Linked DNA regions of Homo sapiens. The protein of the gene in region 1 purifies or fractionates together with the protein of each later gene. This does not show direct contact. Each region holds a gene or a part of one and is shown in the gene's direction. Other genes may lie near its edges. The genes, in order: SEZ6L2 and SLC35A5.

Region 1 (3,819 bases):
CGCTCTGTCACCCAGGCTGGAGTGCAGTGGCACGGATTCAGCTCACTGCAACCTCCACCTCCCAGATGCAAGCAATTCTCCTGCCTCAGCCTCCTGAGTAGCTGGGATTATAGGCATGCACCACCATGCCTGGCTAATTTTTGTATTTTTAGTAAACATGGGGTTTTACCATGTTGGCCAGCCTGGTCTTGAACTCCTTGACTTCAGGTGATCCACCCGTCTTGGCTTCCCAAAGTGCTGGGATGACAGGTGTGAGCTGAGCCACCATGCCTGGTCAAGCATCTGCTATCTTCATCATCATTATCATCCTTTACCTAGCAACTTGGTATCTCAGCCCTGCCACTACTTGCTCTGTGACCTTGGACAGGTTACTTGATCTTTCTATGCCCTAATATCCTCATCTATAAAATAAAGGATAATAATAGTGTCTGACTCAAGAGTTCTTGTGAAAATTAAATGAGATAGAATGTGTAAGGGCTTAGAAGAGTGCGTGGCATATAGTTATGTGTGATGATAACAGCTATAAAAATAAGTTAGGAAAGCAGGCAAGGGGTGAGGCAGCTTGTGAGGGAGATTGAGCTCCTGGTCACGTTTCTGTCCATCCCAGGCTGATGGTGCGCTCAGGGGGCAGCCCCCTATCCCCCGTGATCTATGATTCGGACATGGACGATGTCCCCGAGCGGGGTCTCATCAGTGACGCCCAGTCCCTCTACGTGGAGCTGCTGTCAGAGACACCTGCCAATCCCCTGCTGTTAAGCCTTCGATTTGAAGGTAAGTGACCCACTCCCCCACAGGACCCCAACCGCCACACCTTCCCCTCTTCCTGACACCAAGCATAGTCGGAAGCACAAACTCTATGCCTGTTCATCTCCGTGCTGGGTTCCTTGAAACGTGACTCGCTTCCCTGCCCCAAAACTGCAAGGATCTCTTCTAGGGACCCCTTCTCCTTCCCCCAGGCAGCCTTCTCTGTTTAAGCTTCATGAATGTCTGGATCCAGGTACATAGCCCAGAGACCAGTTATCTCAGTATCTCGGTTCTTTCCTCTGTGCTGGCTTCATCCTTAGGCACTTTCCCTGTGTGATGGACATAGCTGCCGACTTACATACCACCAACTTAATTTTTATTTTATTTATTTATTTATTTATTTTTTGAGACGAGTCTCGCTCTGTCACCCAGGCTGGAATGCAGTGGCGCCATCTTGGCTCACTGCAAGCTCCGCCTTCCGGGTTCACGCCATTCTCCTGCCTCAGCCTCCCGAGTAGCTGGGGCTACAGGCACCCGCCACCGCGCCCGACTAATTTTTTTGTATTTTTAGTAGAGACGGGGTTTCACCGTGTTAGCCAAGATGGACTCGATCTCCTGACCTTGTGATCCGCCTGCCTCGGCCGCCCAAAGTGCTGGGATTACAGGAGTGAGCCACCGCGCCCGGCCTTTATTTATTTTGAGACGGAGTTTTGCTCTTGTTGCCCAGGCTGGGGTGCAATGTCATGATCTCGGCTCACCGCAACCTCTGCCTCCCGGGTTCAAGCGATTTTCCTGCCTCAGCCTCCCGAGTAGCTGGGATTACAGGCATGCGCCACCATGCCCAGCTAATTTTGTATTTTTAGTAAAAATGGGGTTTCTCCACGTTGGTCAGGCTGGTCTGGAACTCCCGAACTCAGGTGATCTGCCCGCCTCCGCCTCCCAAAGTGTTGGGATTACAGGCGTGAGCCACTGCGCCTGACAGTTTTTAGTTTTTATTTATTTTTATTTATTTATTTATTTTGAGACAGAGTTCCTCTCTGTCGCCCAGGCTGGAGTGCAGTGGCGCGATCTCAGCTCACTGCAGCCCCCCTCCTCCAGGTTCAAGCGATTCTCATTCCTTAGCCTCCCGAGTAGCTGGGATTACAGGCATGCATCACCACGCCCAGCTAATTTTTGGGTTTTTAGTAGAGACGGGGTTTCACCATGTTGCCCAGGCTGGTCTTGAACTCCTGGGCTCAAGTGATTCGCCCATGTGGGACTCCCAAAGTGCCAGGATTACAGGTGTAAGCCACCTCCTCCAGCCCATACCACCAACCGAGTAACCTCATCAGAGAGAACACTCATATATTTCCTGAGAGCTCAGCAAAAATGCCAGGAGAGGCGTTCATTGACCTGACTAAGATCCTGGTTGGCCTTAGCCTGAGCCAATCACTGAGCTAGGAGAAGGGAGTATTGGGATTGGCTAATCTGCCTCACGTGGCCTTCCCTGGTGGGCTCCAACTTAACCTAGTGGACTGGGAGTGGGGAAGGCCTGCGTCCCAAAATTAAAATTGGGATGCCGTTACCAGAAGAAGAGGAATGAATGTGAAGGGGTAGAAACAAGGAAGTGATCATGGAGGAAGAGGCATTTCACCTTGGCCTTAAAGGATAGAGGGTATTTTATTATTATTATTATTATTATTGAAATAGGTCTTGCTTTGTCGCCCAGGCCGTAGTGCGGTGGCCCGATCATGGTTCACTGCAACCTCAACCTCCTGGGCTCAAGTGATCCTCCTGCCTCAGCCTCCCTAGTAGCTGGGACCACAAGCGTTCGGCACCATGCCTGGGTAATTTTTACATTTTTTGTAGAGACAGCATCTCACTATGTTGCCCAGGCTGGTCTCCAACTACTGAGCTGAAGTGATCCTCCCACCTCGGCCTCTCAAAGTGCTAGGATTACAGGCGTGAGCCACCCTGCCCAGCCAACAGAGGATATTTTAAAAGAGGAAGATTGAGGCCAGTTGTGGTGACTCGTGTCTCTAATCCCAGTACTTTGGGAGGCCAAGGTGGGATGATTGTTTGAGGCCAGGAGTTTGAGAACCAGTCTGAGCAACATAGTGAGATCCTGTGTCTACAAATTAAAAAAAAGTAATAATTATCCAGGTGTGGTGGCACACACCTCTAGTCCCAGCTACATGGAAGGTTGAGGTGGGAGGATCACTTGAACCCCACTTGAACCCCAGAGGTTGCAGTGAGCTATGATTGCACCACTGTGCTCCAGCCTGGGCAACAGAGCAAGACCCTGTCAAAAAAAAAGAAGAAAAGAAAAGAAAAGGAAAGAGAGGAACTTTGAGAAACAGCAAGTAGGGAAATGCCTGGTATGTCTGGGAAACAGAATTTCATTGTGGCTGAAACAGAGGAGTTGTATAAACAGTAGCAAGAGAGAGACCAAAAAGATGAAATGCTTAGAGATAGGAGGGTCTAGTGTTTGATATGAATCATGGGAGAAATGGAATTGGCACTCGGCTGTGATGGATGGGTAGGATTTGGACATGATACCTTGCAGGTTAAGTAACAGTGAAATAGAACAGTGGATCTGCAAAAATGAATTGCGGGATAGATTCTGGGAGTGTTAAAGTGCAAACAGCACAGATCTTTTACCGAAAATAGCAAGTTGTGAGTCCTGACTCCAGAGTTGTAGGCCACTGCTATTCTATGAGTTTAAGATTCTTCACTGTGGCCAGGCACAATGGCTAACGCCTGTAATCCCAGCACTTTGGGAGGTTAAGATGGGAGGATCACTTGAGCCTGGGAGTTGGAGACCAGCCTGGGCAACATAGCAAGACCTTTGTCTCTACAAAACAAAACAAAACAAAAAATTAGCCAGGTGTGGTGGTGCACACTTGTGGTCCCAGCTGCTTGGGAGGCTGAGGCAGGAGGATCGCTTGAGCTCAGGAGGTCAAGGCTGCTGTGAGTTGTGATCCCACCATTGCACGCTCCAGCCTAGGTGACAGAGCAAGGCCCTGTCTCATTTTTTTCCTTTTTTTTTTTTTTTTGAGATGGAGTTTCGCTCTTGTCACCCAGGCTGGAGTGCAA
Region 2 (3,819 bases), on another chromosome or scaffold:
ACAGTTTCTCACCTGATGGCATAAGGCTGCGCTAACGCCATCAGTAAGTTCTAGATCAGGCTATTTGAAAATTACATACATATGAGAAAGCATATAATAGTGTGCACAGGTATGCTGCTATCTAGGCTAGTCTGTGCATTTAGCAGTTTCAGAGCATGAAGCTTTATATGCACACAACTTCCTATATGTGCATCCTGGAAACTTAGAATTATACTTAGGAGGTGTGATGATGCAGAAGGAAGACATACAAAACCATGGATCCGATCCCTTCTTTAGTGTTTAAGTACATGACCTTAGGGAAATCTGTTAGGTTAACTGTTTCCTCCCTTAGAGCGGAAATGCCTAAGTGTATGGTAGGTGCTCAATAAATGCTCCAATGATATAAAAATTCTCACTTCTGGTTCCCACCTATTGCTTTACACTTCTGCATTTTTTATGTTCCTCTTTTTTTCTCGGTGTTCCCCTTCTTTGCCTAACTAACTGATCTTCAAACATCAAGATTTTGTTCCCCCAAGAGGCCTCCTGACAACGCCAATGAAAGTGAGATATTCCTCTTTGTCAACATTGTACATTCTTGTTGCCTTTGCATAGAGACTCTTCCCTCTGCCTGGATATATCACCACCTCCTTTTTCACATGATAAACTTCAATTAATTTTTCATCTTCTAGCTCAAGTGTCATTTCCTCTTTGAAGCAATACCTGACTATTTACAGATTGTAGTGTTCCTCAGTTTACTCCACTTGTCCCATTAATCACTTTTCACACATACTGAAATCATTTAGTTTCATTGTTTTCTCACTGTTAAAGCATAAATTCCTTGAACATGGAGATAAGTCATCTTTATCGCCCCAGGTTGCCTGGCACGTAGTAGCTGCTTATTAAACATCTGTTGAATAGAATGAATCAGCAAAATGGAATAATAATAGTACATGTCCTTTATTTCTCACAAGTTTGTTGCTAAGGAAAATAAACAAAGGATTGTTAGGACTTTGTAAACTGAAATACTGCCCAAAATAACATTTTTCTTTGGCTTGTCAGCCAGCAGTTTGCTGTTTAATGCTCTACGATTAGGACATGGATCTAGAGCTAACCTTCTCCTTTAAATCTTTTTTGGGTTATGGACACCTTTAAAGATTTGACAAAGCTTTGCAGGATCTCCTGCATAGGGGGAAATTCATCTGTACACAACATTTCTGAAGCTCATCTACATTCTTTCTGGTTCTGGGAAACCAGGTTGAGAATCTCTGCTGTAACTTTATAGTACAATAAAAGTTACTGTGCCAGAGGTCCAGGATACCTCTAGAGGTAGAAAGGAGGCCATGTTAAACTTGTAGGTTAAAAGGAAACCTACACAGAAGGGAAATGACTTGAGCAGCCTTAGGGGATAGGTGTTATAAAAATGAATTAAAACATTAAATTTGAGAGACAGGCACCAACAGTTTTTCTCTGAACTTGAGTGGTAGGAAATGCTAGCAAAAACTGGGTCCAGTTTATTCAACCAAATACTCAAGTGTCTGAGTTTTCAGTAGAAACTATTGATATGGGGGGAAAACAGTAGTAAAATCTTTTTTTTCATCTTTGAACAGGAGGCGTCTAAACTGGATCCAGTGGGCTTCCCTCCTGACTTTATTTTTGTCTATTGTGGCCTTGACTGCCGGGACTAAAACTTTACAGCACAACTTGGCAGGACGTGGATTTCATCACGATGCCTTTTTCAGCCCTTCCAATTCCTGCCTTCTTTTCAGAAGTGAGTGTCCCAGAAAAGACAATTGTACAGCAAAGGAATGGACTTTTCCTGAAGCTAAATGGAACACCACAGCCAGAGTTTTCAGTCACATCCGTCTTGGCATGGGCCATGTTCTTATTATAGTCCAGTGTTTTATTTCTTCAATGGCTAATATCTATAATGAAAAGATACTGAAGGAAGGGAACCAGCTCACTGAAAGCATCTTCATACAGAACAGCAAACTCTATTTCTTTGGCATTCTGTTTAATGGGCTGACTCTGGGCCTTCAGAGGAGTAACCGTGATCAGATTAAGAACTGTGGATTTTTTTATGGCCACAGTGCATTTTCAGTAGCCCTTATTTTTGTAACTGCATTCCAGGGCCTTTCAGTGGCTTTCATTCTGAAGTTCCTGGATAACATGTTCCATGTCTTGATGGCCCAGGTTACCACTGTCATTATCACAACAGTGTCTGTCCTGGTCTTTGACTTCAGGCCCTCCCTGGAATTTTTCTTGGAAGCCCCATCAGTCCTTCTCTCTATATTTATTTATAATGCCAGCAAGCCTCAAGTTCCGGAATACGCACCTAGGCAAGAAAGGATCCGAGATCTAAGTGGCAATCTTTGGGAGCGTTCCAGTGGGGTAAGTTTGTGAGGGTGTTCCTTTTTGCTTGTTCTTCCCAAATTTAAAGCATAGTTAATTCAAGGAAAAAAATAAAATCAGTACTGATTTGTCAAAGAATGTATTGGATCTCTGACTTTTAAAACCGAATCAACAAACATTCCTTTTACTCCTGATGTTTGCAAGGGCTCATAATCAATGCTGTCAGGTGTAGAGAAAAAGTATAAGTCAATCTCAAGGACCTTATGTGTTACTTCATAGAATACTATAGAATTATACACCTGGAAGATACCTCACAGGTTGTCTTGTCCTGTCTGCATAGTTTTACAAGAAACAGGCAAAATGGTTTACAGATAATAAATGAAAGAACTGGTACACCTATGTCTGACTCCAAGTCCCTTTCTCTTTCTTTTCCACCATAGTTAGGGAAAATAAGCTCATTTGTGAGAGAAGTTGGCCTTTCGTATTAGTAAGTCCTGTTGAATAGAAAGCCTGGCTCCTCAGTCCTCCCTGTGGTTATTCATAAGCCAGTATGCCAGAAGGGCAGGGTTTGTTTATTTCACTAGAAAGGTAGTTTTCAAGAGGATCCTTGCAAGGCGAGTAGGAGGAAAATATTTTCTAGAAAAATGCTTATGCAATTATTCCGAATATCTCCCAGTTGCTTGCAATTGTTTTGGAAGGCTCTGTCAATCATTTTATTGGCAAGTTAATGATCTCTTTGAAGATTCAATTAAGGAGTTAAATATACGTTTAAATAAGTGAAATAGACATCTAGCTTTAGATTTACAATTTTCTTGAGCACACAAAATATGAAATATTTTATACAGTGAACATTTCACTCTTTGGGAAAAATAATCTATTGCTTAATAACATTCATAGCAGAGCTTCCCTGGGTGTAATGCCTCTGTCATGATTCAACAGATTCTAAAGATGAAAAAATTAGGATCTTGAGTTTCGGATACCCTGCTCTTAGCCAGAGTGTATATCCAGAAGTCTTGTATTCTTTTCCAACAGCCGATAATGCCATTTGCTCTAATTTTTAAGCAAAAGAAAATCTATATAGGTAACAAGGCCTATGAAGACCTATTTCTGTAACCTTTAATCATTTTTCTGCAAGACCAGCAGGTGGTGCTCCTCACTTTGCTCATGTTAGCTTTGAAATTTTGAGTACTGAGTACACTTCACTTTTTTATCCTCTCATACTTCTATAGTTAACTTTCCAAGAACATAAGTATTTATTTAATTTGACCAGATTATATCTATAGCTTAATGAGGTAAGACCAGTGATTTGTTAGTAAGGTTTTCCCTTTAAAAATGCTACATTTCCAGTTTTGTTCTAATTACTGCTTTCATGTTTCCTTTTAGGATGGAGAAGAACTAGAAAGACTTACCAAACCCAAGAGTGATGAGTCAGATGAAGATACTTTCTAACTGGTACCCACATAGTTTGCAGCTCTCTTGAACCTTATTTTC

What was found.
Region 2: the proteins of SEZ6L2 (region 1) and SLC35A5 fractionate together in Homo sapiens (co-fractionation; one large-scale study listed by BioGRID). This does not show direct contact.

Annotation. Positions count from the first base shown.
Region 1 is NC_000016.10:29,882,538-29,886,356, reverse strand, and holds part of SEZ6L2 (seizure 6-like protein 2 isoform 5 precursor), read left to right. Parts: intron 1-607; coding exon 608-771; intron 772-3,819. UniProt on the Homo sapiens protein: May contribute to specialized endoplasmic reticulum functions in neurons.
Region 2 is NC_000003.12:112,578,960-112,582,778, forward strand, and holds part of SLC35A5 (UDP-sugar transporter protein SLC35A5), read left to right. Parts: intron 1-1,586; coding exon 1,587-2,367; intron 2,368-3,711; coding exon 3,712-3,777; 3' UTR 3,778-3,819. UniProt on the Homo sapiens protein: Probable UDP-sugar:UMP transmembrane antiporter involved in UDP-alpha-D-glucuronate/UDP-GlcA, UDP-GlcNAc/UDP-N-acetyl-alpha-D-glucosamine and UDP-N-acetyl-alpha-D-galactosamine/UDP-GalNAc transport from the cytosol to the lumen of the Golgi.